Regions from separate parts of the Homo sapiens genome. Here region 2 is linked to region 1. Evidence: fine-mapped expression QTL. Tissue or cell type: substantia nigra. Region 1 holds a variant in brackets; the other region holds the start of a gene. All regions are shown on one strand. Distances are from middle to middle.

Region 1 (8,000 bases):
GGCCCAGGTGACAGAGGAGGAAACTGAGAAGCAGAGAGCCACGTGACTCACCTGTGGGTGGACTGTGGGAATCGCCAAGCTCGGATGAGAACCACGTGGGCAGTTCCAGGCCCGAGGCCGCCCACCCCGGGGGGAGAGGTGGGTTCAGGGCCCAGGACAGGCCCCTCTGCAGCCACCGCTCTGCTCCAGGGGGAATGCCAGGCAGGGGGAAGGGGTCTCCCGAGCTCAGGTGCACACAGCTGCCCGTGGTGCCCTGTGCCCACATGCTCAGGTGTACATGTGGGCGCATGTGTGCTCCTGTAACACGCGTCCACGCTCCCGCCCCACCGGGCTGCTCACCAAGCGGCCGATGGCGCTCTCGTAGCTCCCGGGGGTCTGGGTGGCGGTAGGCATCTCGGAAGTGGTGGGCCATGGCTATGTCCTCCAGGCGGTAGTGCGGCGGCGGTGTGGGCTGCGGTGGCCCGTTGCTGGGGCTGTAGCGCTGGGCAGGGTTCAGGGTGCATGGCCGTTTGCTGAGGTGCTCGGGGTGCAGCGGGTCGCGGTCTGACCCGTTCTCTTTGGTCCTAGCCCCAAGAGCAGGTGGGGCGAGGGCAGTGGACATAGGATGAACCGGGGACAGAGGTGCAGGTGGGGTGAGAGGCAGACAGGCAAGGGCAGAGAGAAAGAGGACACGTAAGGGCGAGACAGAAACACGGAGCAAAACACCAGCCCCGGGAAGCCCAGCCCGGCGCCCCCACTCTCTGCCCCTCTGCCGGGGCCCATGCCAGCCTCAACCCCTGCTCCAGCTGCATGGCATCCTGGGGCCTGGTGGTCAAAGAGCCGGACTCGCTGCTCTGGGAACGAGGAGAGGGATACACCAGGCTTCCGTAACTGGAGACCACCTGCCCCTTGGGCAGCAGCAGCACAAGAGCGTCTGGGGCAGCAGAGGGGGCCCAGCCCAGGCACCTGGGGACCATGGACCCCGGACGCTCGGAGTCCATGCCCGGCACACAGGGGAGAGCCGTCCTCCCACCAGCCTCCTCCCTGTCCTCCTAGGCTCCCCGGAGCATCTGAGTCTGCAGCCCACTGGGGTGTCCGCCCGTGCAGCCACCAAGCCTGCTGGCCCTAGTACACCTCGCCACGCTCCCTCAGCCCGAGAGAGCCGGCCGGGCTGGCTGCAGCCCCAGAGGAGGTTCCCTCTCTTACCCAGAGGGGAGCAGGGTGAGCCGCGTGTCCACGGCACCCCCAGCCCAGATCCCCGGAGCCCACAGGTACCTGTCGGGCGTCCTCCTCTTGCCGTTCTCGTTGACTTCCAGTAGCAGCTCTGAGGAGTCGATGGGGGAGGAGGCGCTGGCGTCCAGCAGGAGCTGCTCATGCTGGGCCAAGTACTGGGCGGGCGTCTGCTTGGCCAGGCGTGCACAGTGCAGGAGCTCCCGCTGCAGCAAGGGCAGGTTTGCCTGTGGGGTGGGGAAGGAGGGCCTGGGTAGCATGCAGGGGTGCACAGCCCTGCTCAGGTCCGAGCAGAGGGGGCCTGGGCTGGGTGGCCGAAAGCTCAACTTGACCTCGGGCCTCAAAGGTCAAGGTGCTCGACCTCTCTGGGCCTCAAGTTCCTTCCTAGCAGTGCCATGGGAGGGTGGCGTGGGAGGGTGGGCACAGAGCTTCGCAGGAGTGCCTCACCTGGGCCACACGGCGATGTGGGGCATGTGGGACTTGAGCCCAGATCCTGGACTCCCAGGGTGGGGCTTTCCCACCGCACCCAGCTCCCTCCCATGGCGTGGTCTGGAGAAGGCGAGAGGACGAAGGGGCAGCAGATCATGGTTGGTCTTCCCGCCTGCACCCGCCCTGCCCAGCAGGCACCACATGACCCAACACAGCTGGGGAAATGCAGGCTCAGAGAGGGGGAGGCAGCCCTGGGCCTACAGGCGGCTCACACGAGGGAGCTGGGAGTGAAACCCAGCTGGGATTGCCTGCAGTGTGTCTGCTCCAGCCCTGATGGGAAGCCCTGAGGTTCAGCTTCCCCTTCCCTTCCCGCTGGTTTCCAGCCTTGGCCTTGATGGAGCGTGGACCTAGGACGTGGACACCCACGTTCTGTGGCTGCTCAAGTGATCCTCCAGCCTTGGTGAGGACGGCCTCAAGACCCACGTGTGCGGGTAAAGACTCCGCAGCATGCGGCCGAAGGACGGCCCGGTGTACGGGATCCGTATGCAGACCCTGCCTTTGACGCCTGTGTGTACCCGCGGCGCCCGCCGCCTCGTCCTTGGCTCCAGGCTGGCACTGCTGGGCCGCAAGCCGGGCTCCTCGGGTGCCTTCCCCAAAGTCTTCCCAGAGCTGCCGCGGGAGGGCGGACAGGCGTGCTGGACCCTGAGCATGCTGGACCAGGGCCCAGCAGCAGGCCACTTGGGAGAGCCAGCGGTTCTAAGCATTTGTAAATAAATCCAATTCCCCAACTTTCTCATGCGTTTCAAAGCTGCCACGCCGCCTTCTCCTGCCAGCGCCTCCCCATTCCCCACGAGTGCATCCACCAGGCCCTCGAGCAGTGCCGGCTGCCGGCCTGTTTTTCTCTTTGGATGGCTGAACAGGGGCCAACCGGCCATCTGTTGAGGACATCAGGAGCATGAGCTGGGAAACGAGGTCCCGGGAGGTCTGAGGAGCCAAACATCCTCCCTCCCTCATCAGCCCCTCCCCAGGGGCCTCCTCTTGGTCAGTTCGGGAACCGGCTGGTCGCTGTTAGGGCGGGGAGAACATCTGGATCCCTGGCTGGCTGGGGCCAGCTGAGGCCAGCTGGGAGCCGGGGCGGTGGGTGGGGCTGCATCCCCCAGCTTCTGGAAGGCCTGACCCTTGGGCTGCGTGTGGGGCAGGCTCAGGAAAGGGTGCAGAGAACCCAGGACTGGGCAGCATCAGCGTAGGGGCCGGATGCACAGCAGCCCTCGGCAAGCAGGGAATGTTTCCTCAAGGCCTGCGGAATGGGGTGGGGACTGTGGGAACCTCCGGCAGTGCCTCCTTCAAGGCAGTGTCCCCACTCTGTCCCCAGGAGCCCAGGGCACCCGGGGAGGTGTCACCACTAAAATGCTACACACACTGAGCTGGTCAAAATGCCCCAACTCCACCACTGAACGGAAGTTCTGCCTGCAGAACTTCTGAAGCTGCCCTCTGCACAGATGGGCGCTCAGGCTGGGGAACTGGTGTTTGCAATGACGGCGGCGGTGGCTGAGGCACTAGTTGAGCTACAAGGGCTTTCGCGGACTCCGCTGCTCTGCCAAGCACCCAGCTAAAGCCTCCCTGACCGTGGGCTCTGCCATAGAGGGGCTGTGGCCTTGGGCTGGTCATTTAACCTCTCTGACCCTTGCTGTATCTGCAAACTAGCGCTGTGGAGCCTCTGGCCGAGACAGACTCCGGGGAGCTCCGGGTGAATCAGCTCAGTCCTTTCCCACCACCCCGTGAGGGAGATTCACCACCCCAACTACGAGAGAGAGGGCCCAAGCCAGGGCTGGGGTTCCAGCCAAGCAGGCCCCCACTCTCTCCGGCCCCTCAGCCACGATTCCTGCCGTTTCTAGGATGATGTCTTCAAGGACTGCGTGAGAGTACCCCAGACTGGGCCTGGCGGGCTGTGGATGTCTTGGGAAGGTGCTACCCCTCCCCCAGCCCAGGCCACAGTCAGGAACACCGAGGCCCAAGGGGACTGGCTGGGGGTCACTCCCACTCGGCACCTCCTGTCTGGCCTGGGAAGGTCGGACTCCCCCACTGCACTCTGTGTCTGAAGGGGCTGCGGCCCTGCAGGGGTGTGGGTGGGGTTGGGGGGGTGCGGGTGGGGTTGGGGAGGGGTGGGGTGGGGGAAGGGTGTGGGTGGGGGAGGGGTGGGGTGGGGGTGGGGTAGGGGTGGGGTGGGGTGGGAGGGGGTGGGGTGGGGTGGGGTGGGTGGGAGGGGTGGGGTGGGGGCTGCTCCCTGGGTGGGACAGTGACAGTAGGGCCAGGGTTCTGGCTTGTATCTGAGCCACAAGACCTGGAAGCAGGACTGGCCGCAAGATCTTTATTTTTTATTTTTGAATCCTCCTGGCCTCCCCCTAGAAGCGCCATGTCAGAGAGGTGAACAGACTTCATGTCCCACTGGCCCCGGGCCCCGGGTGGGGGCACGAGGTGGGCTGGCCCTGAGCTCCAGCTACCCCACACAGGCCGTGGGATCCCCTGTGTACCAAGGGGAGACTGAGGTGGACACGGCCCTCACGAGAGCCGGGCCGCGGGCGGCACCTGCTGGGGCGTGGCCGGGGGACACCAGGGCCTGACCAGACGTCATGGACAGGGGCCGTAGGCCTGGTGGGGGCAAGGGTGGGGATGCTGCGGCGTTTCTCTGCCTGACCCTGATCCTCAGTTAAGCAAGGGTGGCTGAGGCTGGGGGCATCTGTTGGTAATAAGCAGGCGCACTGTGTCCCCAAAGACTGGGAGGGGTGGAGTCCGCAGCAAGTTAAAAGAAGGGAAGGGAAGGGCCGCTAACGAACTGCAAACGACGCCAGATGGGCCCAGGCTCCTGCCACTCCAGAAGCTTCTCTTTTGTCACCATCTGGGAGCATGAGCACAGCAGGGCGTGGGAGGGGGCGGAGGAAGGCGGGAGGAGGGATGGAGCGATAGAGGAGGGAGGGCAGGAGGAAAGGAGGGGGTGGTGGGAGGGAGGGAGGACTGGGGCAGCGGAGGGAGGGAGGGCAGGAAAAAGCAGAGGAGGCAGGGGCGGGAGGGAGGGAGCGAGGGTGG[G/T]AACAGAGGTGGGTGTGATGTGGGGTCCCCTTGGGGAGGGACTGAGGGGAATGAGGGTCTGACCCTGTAAGTGCCCTGGGACGACCAGGGCGTTTGGAATTTGACAGACCTAGGTTTGAGCCCTGGCGCCCTCTCTCCACTACCTGGGGGGAACCCAGAGCCTCAGTTTCCCCACCTGTTAATCAGGAACATGGCAGTGCCTACACTACACCTTGACAGAGGCCAACAGGTCTGTGAGAGACCTTCCTGAAGCACTCCTCCTCCTCCAGGGACGACACCCCGCGATTCCTCCTCCTCCAGGGACACTTCAAATCCCTGGACGACGCCCCGCGATTCCTCCTCCTCCAGGGACGACGCCACGCGATTCCTCCTCCTCCAGGGACACTTCAAATCCCTGGACGATGCCCCGCGATTCCTCCTCCTCCAGGGACACTTCAAATCCCTGGACGACGCCCCGCGATTCCTCCTCCTTCAGGGACGACGCCCCGCGATTCCTCCTCCTCCAGGGACGACGCCGTGCGATTCCTCCTCCTCCAGGGACGACGCCCCGTGATTCCTCCTCCTCCAGGGGACGTTTCAAATCCCTGGACGATGCCCCGCGATTCCTCCTCCTCCAGGGGACGTTTCAAATCCCTGGACGATGCCCCGCGATTCCTCCTCCTCCAGGGGACGTTTCAAATCCCTGGACGATGCCCCGCGTGAATCTAGAACATGCCTCACCTCCCTGTAGTCCCCGCTACCTGGGAGGCTGAGGTGGAAGATTCCCCTGAGCCCGGGAGTGAGGCCCCGTTCTTTCCGCGTGTCCCTCCACGCTGTCTCCTCAACAGCCTGAGGATGATTCCATTTTGCAGATACAGAAACCGAAGCACAGAGGAACTGGCCTCACCCAGGGGCCAACAGCTGCTAAGTGGCAGGCTCGGGCTCAAGCCAGGGAGCATCTGGTCTGGTCTGTCCTCTGGACCCCCGAGGGGAGGCCTGGCCCAGCAGAGATGGAGCCCACAGCAGTACGGGCAGTGCTCAGGCTGGGCCCGAAGGTGTGGCCAGGCTGGCAGCTCCCAACTAAGCTCCACGGAACCCTGACCCCAACACGTGCTCGGCAGAGAAGGTCACATGGTCAGACACATTTGGGGAACCTTTCCTCAGCTCCTGCTAGAGATGTGCAGCCGTCTTGGGGAAATGGAGACCCGCAGAGATGGCAGTCTGACTCCACGGCACTCCCGTGCCCGTCCCGTCTGTGTGTGCGTGGGAATCACTCTCCCATGGGAATCACTGGCTTCATTCATTCATTCATTCATTCATTCGTTCAGAGACAGGGTGTTGCTCTGTCGCCCAGGCTGGAGTGCAGTGGCGTGATCACAGCTCACTGCAGTCTCGACCTCCTGGATTCAAGCAATCCTCCCACCTCAGCCTCCCGGGTAGCTGGGATCATAGGTGCATACAACGCTCAGCTAATTTTTATATTTTTTGTAGAGATGGGGTCTAGCTGTGTTGCCCAGGCTGGTCTTGAACTCCTGGCCTCAAGCAATCCCCGTTCCTCAGACTGGCATCTTTAAAAATGCAGGCTCTGATTCAGCAGGTTTGGGCCGGGCCGAGAGCCTGCAAAGCTGACAAGCCCCGCGTGCTGCCACCCTGGTCCACGGTTGATCTGGGTGTGACCATCTGACCTGCTTTCACCTGACACCTCTTCATCCATCGGCCTGCGCAGCCACAGAAGCCCCTTCCCGCCTGTCTACCGCCCTCACCTCCCGCCCTCACCTCTGCTCTCTCCACCCCACGTATTCTGTTCCAGTCACACTGACCCCTCTGCTGTTCCTCAAGCACAGCGGGCGCCCCATACCTCAGGGCCTCTGCACGTGCAGTTACTGCTGTCTGGAAAACCCTGCGCTGGCTCTGCACCTAGCTCCGCCCTCATCCTCAGCCCTCACCAACACGCCTCCAAGCAAAGGACTTTCGGAATACTTCTCCACCACGTGCAGCTGCAGATTTGAGAGTGGCTGTGGACCGAACGCCTTCCCACCCCAGGGTGCTGGCTCCAGGAGGGACCTGCTGCATGTCCTGGGCCCTATCCCCGAGCCTTGCCCCCACACTGGCACGTCGTCAGTGCTCAAAAATCACCCGTGGAGTGAGCGAGCACATTCGGCCAACGGCAACCAGAGGCGAACCGGACAGCTCTGTCCTGTGCTGGATTTAAGGGCTGATAATCATCCGGTCTGGCAACTAATTTTCAGGCCTTAACTAGTAGGAGTCAACCCTGACTAGTCAGCAGTGCTCCCCTAGGGTACCACAGGGTCCCAGGTTGGCCAAGATCGATGCCTCACACCTCTTCATCCACCTGCCTATCTGGCCACTTAAGCCCCTTCCCGCCTGTCCACCGCTGTCCACGCTGGCAAGGAGTGGGATTAAGGGGCCTTCTAGGGAGGCTCCCGCAGCACGGGGGACGGGTTTCGCATTACCTTCAGGAAGGGAATGACAAACGGCCGCAGAGGGAAGTTGGTGGCCTCCTGAAGCTTGGAATGAAACTCCTCGATCGTCAATGTCGAGTTCTGCAGGGGAGAAAACCCACCTCACATCAGCACCGCTCGGCATGTGAGCCAGCGCCGACCCACCCATGCCTGAGGAGGAGGCTTCCGTGTTGGAGGCAGGCAGGCAGCCCAGGAGCTGGGCACGGCCTGAGAGGGTGCAGGTGGCATCGTGGGAGCGGGTCCACGCCCGGTTGTCAGCGTGGAGCCCATGTAAGGAGTGGCCGTGGCTGCAACCTCATTAAACGGAGGGAATATGCATGTCCCAAGGCCCCGGCTGTCCCTGCCCAACTCACCACCAGGCCCAGCACCAGTGTGCGCACGCGCTCCCCAATCTCTGGGGAGATGTCGCTGCCAAACTGCTGCAGTGTGGTGAGGAAGCGCTTGAGCTTGCTGAGCTGCCGGGCCCCGCAGGCTGGGGGCAGGTGCTGTGTGGACAAGGAGGCTGTGGACGAGGTGGCCGGGCCATTGCTGAAGCCGTTGGGTGTGCACGGTGCACCATTGATGGCTGTTGGTGAGTGGCTGCTGCCGTTCATCACTGCAGGAGGGAAGCGGACATGAGGACACAAAGGTGATGGTGACAACACAACCCAGACGGCGGCGACAGTGAGGGAAGCAGCGACTAAGGTGACAATGTCAAAAGTGACGGCAACAATGATGAGACACAAGGACAGTAGCGCTGAGGATGACAGCAGGAGCCCTGGGCCCGCCCAGGGCAGCTGAGCTGGCCCTTAGCATGCTGACCATCTGTCCTTCCGG
Region 2 (8,132 bases), 940 kb after region 1:
ATGAAGGACAAGGAGCATGTTTTTAGATGCAGGCAATCCATAACTGTAGAAATGGCCTTGATCTAAAGCAAGCTTGTCCAACCCGCGGCCTGTGGGCTGCATGCGGCCCAGGAAAGCTTTGAATGCAGCCCAACACAAATTCTTAAACTTTCTTAAAACATTGTGAGATTTATGCACAGAGCTATTGTTAGTGTATTTTACGTGTGGCTCAAGACAATTCGTCTTCCAGTGTGGTCCAGGGAAGCCAAAAGATTGGACACCCCTGCTCTAAAGCTTTCCAAGCTGACTTAATGACTGACCTACATCAATCTCTACAGTGCTTCTCGTTGAGTCCCTTTTTCTGTTTGTTTGTTTTTTGAGACAGAGTCTCACTGTGTCACCAGGCTGGAGTGCAGTGGTGTGATCTCGGCTCACTGCAACCTCCGCCTCCTGGATTCAGGCGATTGTCCTGCCTCACCCTCCTGAGTAGCTGGGACTACAGGCATGTGCCACCATGCCCAGCTAATTTTTGTATTTTTATTTTTATTTTTTATTTATTTATTTTTTGAGACAGAGTCTCGCTCTGTCGCCCAGGCTGCAATGCAGTGGCGCAATCTTGGCTCACTGCAAGCTCCACCTCCCAGGTTCACGGCATTCTCCTGCCTCAGCCTCCCGAGTAGCTGGGACTACAGGCACCCCCCCACCACGCCCGGCTAATTTTTTTGTATTTTTAGTAGAGACAGGGTTTCACCGTGCTAGCCAGGATGGTCTCGATCTCCTGACCTCGTGATCTGCCCGCCTCAGCCTCCCAAAGTGCTGGGATTACAGGCGTGAGCCACTGTGCCTGGCCTTTTGTATTTTTAGTAGAGATGGGGTTTCACCGTGTTGGCCAGGATGGCCTTGATCTCCTGACCTTGTGATCTGCCTGCCTCGGCCTCCCAAAGTGCTGGGATTACAGGTGTGAGCCACCATGCCCGGCCATGTTTTATTTCTTTTTATTTTTTTTGAGATGGAGTCTTGCTCTGTTTCCCAGGCTGGAGTGCAGTGGTGCGATCTCGGCTCACTGCGACCTCCGCCTCCTGGGTTCAAGCAATTCTTCTGCCTCAGCCTCCCGAGTAGCTGGGATTATAGGCATGTGCCACCACGCCCTGCTAATTTTTTTTTTTTTAATTATTTTTCTAGTAGAGATGGGGTTTCACCATATTGGCCAGGCTGGTCTGGAACTCCTGACCTCGTGATCTGCCCCCTTGGCCTCCCAAAGTGCTGGGATTACAGGCTTGAGCCACCGTGCCCAGCCCTAACTTTTAAAATTTTTTACTAAAATCTCAGTGTTCTAAGTCCTGCTGGTGAGTCCATAGGGATCCCAGGTAGGATGGTGGATGCCAGTTCAGAGAGGGTCACTGTACCCCACTCACGTGACCTCAAGGGTCACTGTTCAGCCAGGTGAGTCAGCACTAGGTCCTTGCCAGGATGCAGCAGTGGCTGGAGGACTGAGCTCACAAATTACACCCTAAAACCTTGTGGTCGGTAAGGGACACGTGAGGCCCTTTGAGGAAGAGAGAAGGTCCCCTTGTGCCCCAGCCAGCTTCCCATTAGGGTAATTACCATCTTCTGCTCAAATGTCCCCGGCCAGTGCTGCACTGTGGCAGTGATGAGGCTGCACGTCCAAAGAGTGCTCTGGGGTGGTGGCCAGTCGTGGTGAGAGCAATGTCCCCCACCTTGACTTCTGGCAAGAAGCAGTGAGACCTACTCAGTGGGGTGTTGCAAATGGAAGTCTTTTTTTTTTTCTTTTTTTATTTTTGAGATGGAGTCTCGCTCTGTCGCCCAGGCTGGAGTGCAGTGGCGCGATCTCGGCTCACTGCAAGCTCCGCCTCCTGGGTTCACGCCATTCTCCTGCTTTAGCCTCCCCAGTATCTGGAACTACAGGCACCCGACACCACTCCTGGCTAATTTTTTGTGTTTTTTAGTAGAGACGGGTTTCACCATGTTAGCCAGGATAGTCTCAATCTCCTGACCTCTTGATCCATCCGCCTCGGCCTCCCAAAGTGCTGGGATTACAGGAGTGAGCCACCGCGCTCGGCCACAAATGGAAGTCTTTATCCCCGTGCATTCTGAAGGGAGAAACCACCCTGTGTGTGGGACCAAGGATCAGCCTCAGACATCAGCAGAGAACAATTCCCCATCATCACACACCTGGCAGTGTGTGGGCCAGGGACTTTGGTTACCACGAATGTAGAGCGTGCTGCTCCTGTGGAATAAGATGCCTCATGGAAGGTTTTCTGCTGTTGCTCTTCTAAGCCAGAACTTGAAATTCCTAACTTACCCATCGTTGGTACCCATGCTGCGGGTGGCAGGGACAAATCAGGAGGGGAGATCTGCTTGAGTGCCAGGTTTGTGGTACATGGTATTCAGGGCATGGCACCCCATCCCCACCCCGCTCATCTCCAATTTTCCTTCTGCAAAACCCCACTGCGCCTATTAGTCTTTATGCATCTATTTACTAGAGACAGGGTCTCACCGTCACCCAGGCTGGAGTGCAGTGGTGCAATCACAGCGCACTGCAACCTCGACCTCCCAGGCTCAAGTGGTCCTCCTGCCTTACCCTCCCAAGTAGCTGGGACCACCGGCACACACCTCCACACCTGGCTAATGTTTTTAAAGTTTTGTAGCGATAGGGTCTCATGTTGCCCTGGCAGGTCTCGAACTCCTGGGTTCAAGCCATCGGGTTGCCTCGGCCTCCCAAAGTGCTGGGATTACAGGCATGAGCCACCGTGCCCAGCCCACTCCTGTTACTTTTGGTTGTGTTTTAGCTTGGGGAACCAACAAAAGATGTGAATGTTGCCCCGCTGTTGATTATAAAAACTTTAGGCATGGCTGGGCACAGTGGCTCATGCCTGTAATCCCAGCACTTTGAGAGGCCGAGGCGGGCGGATCATGAGGTCAGGAGATTGAGACCATCCTAGCTAATACAGTGAAACCCCGTCTCTACTAAAAAAATACAAAAAATTAGCTGGGCGTGGTGGCAGGCGCCTGTAGTCTCAGCTACTCAGGAGGCTGAGGCAGGAGAATGGCGTAAACCTGGGAGGGGAGCTTGCAGTGAGCAGAGATCGCGTCACTGCACTCTAGCCTGGGCAACAGAGCGCGACTCTGCCTCAAAACAAACAAACAAACAAACTTTAGGCACAATTCGTCATCATCAGCCTCCTTTCTGCTTACAGATGAAAAGTCCAGCTGGACGGGACGACATGGCTCATGCCTGCAACCCCAGCACCCTGGGAGGCTGAGGCAGGGGGATCACCTGAGGTCAGGATTTCGAGACCGGCCTGGCCGACATGGCGAAACCACCCAAAAAATTACCCGGGTGTGGTGGTGGGCGCCTGTAGTTCCAGCTACTTTGAGGCTGAGGCAGGAGAAACGCTTGAATCTGGGAGGTAGAGGTTGCAGTGAGCCAAGGTTGCGCCACTGCACTCCAGCCTGGGCGATAAGAGCAAAACTCCTTCTCAAAAAAAAAAAAAAGAAAGGGAAAGAAAAGAAAAGTCCAGCTGGACTGGGCGCGGTTGCTCACGCTTGTAATCCCAGTACTTTGGGAGACCAAGGTGGCCTGACTGCTTGAGCCCAGGAATTCAAGACCAGCCTGGGCAACATGGTGAGATCCCATCTCCACAAAAAATAAAAACAATCAGCTGGGCGTGGTGGTTCATGCCTTTAGTCCCATCTACTCAGGAAGCTGACGTGGGAGGATCACTTGACCCCAGGAATTTGAGGTTATAGTGAGCTACGATTGTACCATTGCACTTCAGCCTGGGTGAGACCTTGTCTCTAAAAAAAAAAAAAGAAAAAAAAATCATTGTGGAACTTCTTTTCTGGGATGGGATCTCACTGTGTTGTCCAGGCAGGTCCAGAACTCCTGGGAGACCAGCGAACTTTAAGTGCCCCAAGTTTCACCTCGGACCTGCATCAGAATCTCCAGCCCTGGAGCCCAGGAATCTGCATTTCTTGCCCCCGGGTGGTACTGGCAGCACCCAGGCTTGGGACCGTTTATGCCCCAACTGCATTTTCTTGCCCACTTATTCAGATCTGGCACAACTATGAAGAGGCCTCGGGATGAGCCCCAGCCGAGTTCCCCTTGCGTCCCTCAGGCAAACACCCAGTGTCCAGGAGTGACCCGGCCTGAAGACACAAACACGCCCCAAATGCGATGCACGCCATCACTGGCCAACCGTGTGTGTTTATTTTTCACGGACACCCTGGAGACGTCACTGCAGGCACATTCCCTGCTAGGCAGAGGCATTTATTAAGGGCTTCATACCCGAAGGCCGGATGCGGGGAGTCGCCCTCACCCCAGCCACCCTGCGACAACCCCTGGAGGTCACCTTGCCCGGGGCTCGGGGAGGCCACTGCGGGCTTTGTCTGCTCAGCTCCTCCCGGCTCCCTCCCGCGTTCCCAGCGGCAAACCTCCCAGGCCCCCCGCGGTCACCGCAGTGTCCCGGGCTGGATGCCGGCCCGGGCTTTTGTGGGCATCGGCCGTCTGGGTCTGCGGGGGAGCGCCGGGGGTGTCACCGCGTGTCCGAGCGCGCGGGCCCTGGCCCATGTCTGCAGCCCCCAACCCTCCCCCCGGTCCTGCCCAGCACCCCGGAGGGGTTCGCACCCCGGCCTCGGCCCCGCGCCCCCGCGTCCCCAGCCCTGAGCCCCAGCCCCTCCGCACCTACCCGCGCCCCGCCCTGCCCCTCACCCGTCCCCCTCCGGGCCTCTCCCCGCGCGCCCTCCACTCCCCGCCCCGCCCCGCGTCCCTCCCCCTCCGCGCCCCGCCCCCCGCGCCCTCCGCGCCCCGCCCCCGTCGCCGCCCCGCCCCCAACCTGAGGCGCTCGCGCGGGGCGGGGCGGCCAGGCTGACCCTGCGCGGCGGAAGGCGCGGCTGCATGGACGCGGGTCCGGCGCGCGGGAGGCGATGACGGCCCCGCCATGGCCCGGGCGGGCAGCTGCGGCGGCGCCGCGGCGGGCGCAGGGCGGCCGGAGCCCTGGGAGCTGTCCCTGGAGGAGGTGCTGAAGGCCTACGAGCAGCCGCTCAACGAGGAGCAGGCGTGGGCCGTGTGCTTCCAGGGCTGCCGCGGGCTGCGGGGCTCGCCGGGCCGGCGCCTGCGGGATACCGGGGACCTCCTGCTGCGCGGGGACGGCTCGGTCGGGGCGCGGGAGCCCGAGGCCGCGGGTGAGGCCGGGGGCGGGGCAGCCGGCGGGGACCGCGGTCTGGGGCGTCCGTCCCGCCCCCTGGGTGGGGGTGGTCCCGGCGGAGAGGCTGCGACCGGTTCTGGAGCGGGAGATCCCCTTCTCTGCGGGACCCGGAGCTCCCTCCCTCCCACTCTCCGTCCCTCTTTCCCTCTCTCTTTCCTCCCTCCTTCTCTCCCTCCTTCCTCTCCCTCCCCGGCCCTGGACGTTCCCCTCCCGGACCCCCCCACCTGACGCCTCTCCCAGCGCGGAGCGGGCTGCTCCCCAGTGGCCTGGCTTCCTCCGGGAGAGGGACTTGGGCCGGTGGCTCAGGGAGCACGGAGCTGGCCTTTGCTGGGGCGACTCCTCCCCTGCCTTCAGCAGGAAAGGAGACAGAAGCGTCCCCTTGGGGCATTTTCTCCTGGGTGGAAGGTGGGGGGCTGCGCCTCACTTGGCGTCTGAACTGACACTAAATTCCTGGGTTTAACTGGGAGAGGAAGGGGTGTGTAAAGTTGGGGGGACAACCTGCTTGGTGTTTCTATTCTTAACCATCAACCAGAACCAACAATTAAGCCCTAGAAAGATACTTGAAGTTAGTGAGAATGGTGAGCTTAAGTGATTATTTACCCTTTACGAAAAAAACCGAAAGTGATTTCTTCCCTGGAGAGCTGGAGTGCTGGCTTGGAGCATGTGATATGACCCCAAAAGCTGGTACCCTGCCGGGGGGCAGAGGCAGGCTGTGTGTTTGCCGCACTCTCTCCAGGCCTGAGAGCTGTGGGTTTGCATGAGCAGGCCTATGTGGAGGACCAGGAAGGGCCAGGGCAAGGCCAGACAGAAGCAAGCTACAGAGCCACGAGGGGTGGGGGCCGTTGTGCCCCACCCAAGGGCCCTTGTTCCTTCACCAGGTCCTGCTCATCCTGGAGCCCCCCCCTCAGCTGCCTCCACACTCCTGCCATTTGCAGTATCCCACACAGGTGACAGCAAGAGCAGGCCCTGAGGTTTTACTCCCTCTGGAGAAACCTGAGGCGCAGGCTTGCGCTGGCACTCAGACAGTGGCAGCGTTCAGATTCACTGTGGCGTCCCTCAGGGCTGTGCCCACTGCCGCCCAGAGGGTGGGGTGAGACGGCAGGTGCATGGGGCCCAGGAGGCTGCATGCTCACAGAGCCTCTGTGAAAGGGTGCCTGGACTTCACCCCATTCCTGGAGATAAGTGCAGAGCAGGAGGAGGCTGTAGGCAGCCTGGTTCGTCTGACCCTCTGACTGTAAAGATGGGGAAACCGAGGCACACAGTGGTAAGTGGTTTGCCGGGTGGTTAGAATCCAGAGCTCCTCATTTGTCCTAGCTGTGCGGGAGCCCAGCCGCCTGCTTCCTGTTGGTGCTGTGCAAGGCGTCCTCAGAGCAGTGATCTGATTCTCTCCACCTCCATCCCTGGGTGGTGTGGCCCCTTCCTGGTCCTCACAGCCCCGGCAGCAGTTCCTGGCTGGGGTTCAAAGTTCAGGTAGGGCACTGTGTTGACCTTAGGGGGTGGTACCCACCTGTGGTCCAGTTCATTTTTTATTTGATAACGATCTTTGTTTTCTGTTCATAACCCTGTCTCATGAAGGCGAATGAGTTTTATGACTTGCTCTCTCTTGAAGGTTTAAGAAAAATCTATTACCCTGAACTTTCTGTGCCATCCTTGTGGTGCTTCTGAGTCAGCTGAGACATCAGGCCAGCTGTCTCCTCAAAGGTGGCTAACCCAGCCTTTCTCTGGGACTTAAGTGATAAGTAAATACATTAAAAGATGCATACTTATTTCTCCCTGTAGATATCAATAGGAAAACATCCAATCTCACTTGTTGGCATTGTAGTCTCAGTTTTTTGCTCCAGTTGAATTTCTCAACCTGTAACCTTGGGTCTTCAGTACCCACCCTCTCACACAAACTGAATATGGGCAGTAGGTGTGTAAAACCACTTTGAAAAAAACCAACAACAAACTAGACCATACTTAGGAGGATGAATAATATTATCTTAGCACACAAGTAGTAATACTTCTCATTTCCAAGCCAAGATTAGGAAAAAAATGACTAGAAGAGACTTCCTAATCTTTACTCTGAAGACTTTGTAACTGCTTAGAATCTTTTTTTTTTTTTTTTTTTGAGAGGGAGTCTCGCTCTGTTGCCCAGGCTGGAGTGCAGCGGCACAATCTCTGCTCACTGCAAGCTCCACCTCCCGGGTTCACGCCATTCTCCTGCCTCAGCCTCCCGAGTAGCTGGGACTACAGGCGCCCGCCACCACGCCCGGCTAATTTTTTGTATTTTTAGTAGAGACGGGGTTTCACCGTGTTAGCCAGGATGGTCTCGATCTCCTGACCTCGTGATCTGCCCACCTCGGCCTTCCAAAGTGCTGGGATTACAGGCGTGAGCCACTGCGCCCAGCTGGGTGGTTTCTCAAATACATCTCAGACGTGGTGCTAATGAGGGTCTGTGTGGTCCATGTGCAAGGTGGGTGGGATGGCCCTTCCTTCCGTCACCTGCCCTCTTCACCCTGATTGGCTACTTTACACGTGACCCTATTTTTTGAATGTTTTTTCTTGTCAACTTTGGATGCTAAACTTTTTTTCTTTCTTTCTTTTTTTTTTTTTTTTATGAGACAGTCTCGCTCTGTCGCCCAGGCTGGAGTGCAGTGGCGCGTTCTCGGCTCACTGCAAGCTTCGCCTACTGGGTTCACGCCATTCTCCTGCCTCAGCGTCCCGAGTAGCTGGGACTACATGCGCCCGCCACCACGCCCGGCTAATTTTTTGTATTTTTAGTAGAGACTGGGTTTCACTGTGTTAGCCAGAATGGTCTCGATCTCCTGACCTCATGATCCGCCCACCTCGGCCTCCCAAAGTGCTGGGATTACAGGCGTAAGCCACCACGCCTGGCCTGGATGCTAAACTTTTTCACAGGCAGGCCCCGCTCTTTACGCTAGG

The links. PIP is the estimated chance that this variant, and not a neighbour inherited with it, causes the effect.
Region 2: it holds the start of SPIRE2, and the variant in region 1 is fine-mapped to the expression of SPIRE2 in substantia nigra (GTEx, PIP 0.97).

Annotation. Positions count from the first base shown.
Region 1 is chr16:88,884,707-88,892,706 of GRCh38, forward strand. It overlaps CBFA2T3 (CBFA2/RUNX1 partner transcriptional co-repressor 3), which reads right to left. Exons shown (of 12, transcript NM_005187.6): 4 at 7,538-7,779; 5 at 7,176-7,265; 6 at 1,255-1,436; 7 at 340-563. LOC101927793 (a long non-coding RNA gene) reads left to right here. Exons shown (of 3, transcript NR_135194.1): 2 at 1-138; 3 at 1,036-2,430. Among named protein-coding and RNA genes, the nearest start is that of PABPN1L, 22 kb to the left of the region's middle. RefSeq lists an enhancer at 7,509-8,000. The variant G/T (reference allele first, on the strand shown) is at 4,723.
Region 2 is chr16:89,823,611-89,831,742 of GRCh38, forward strand. SPIRE2 (spire type actin nucleation factor 2) reads left to right here and starts at 4,865. Exons shown (of 15, transcript NM_032451.2): 1 at 4,865-5,184. The coding sequence starts at 4,941. RefSeq lists a silencer at 4,919-5,008.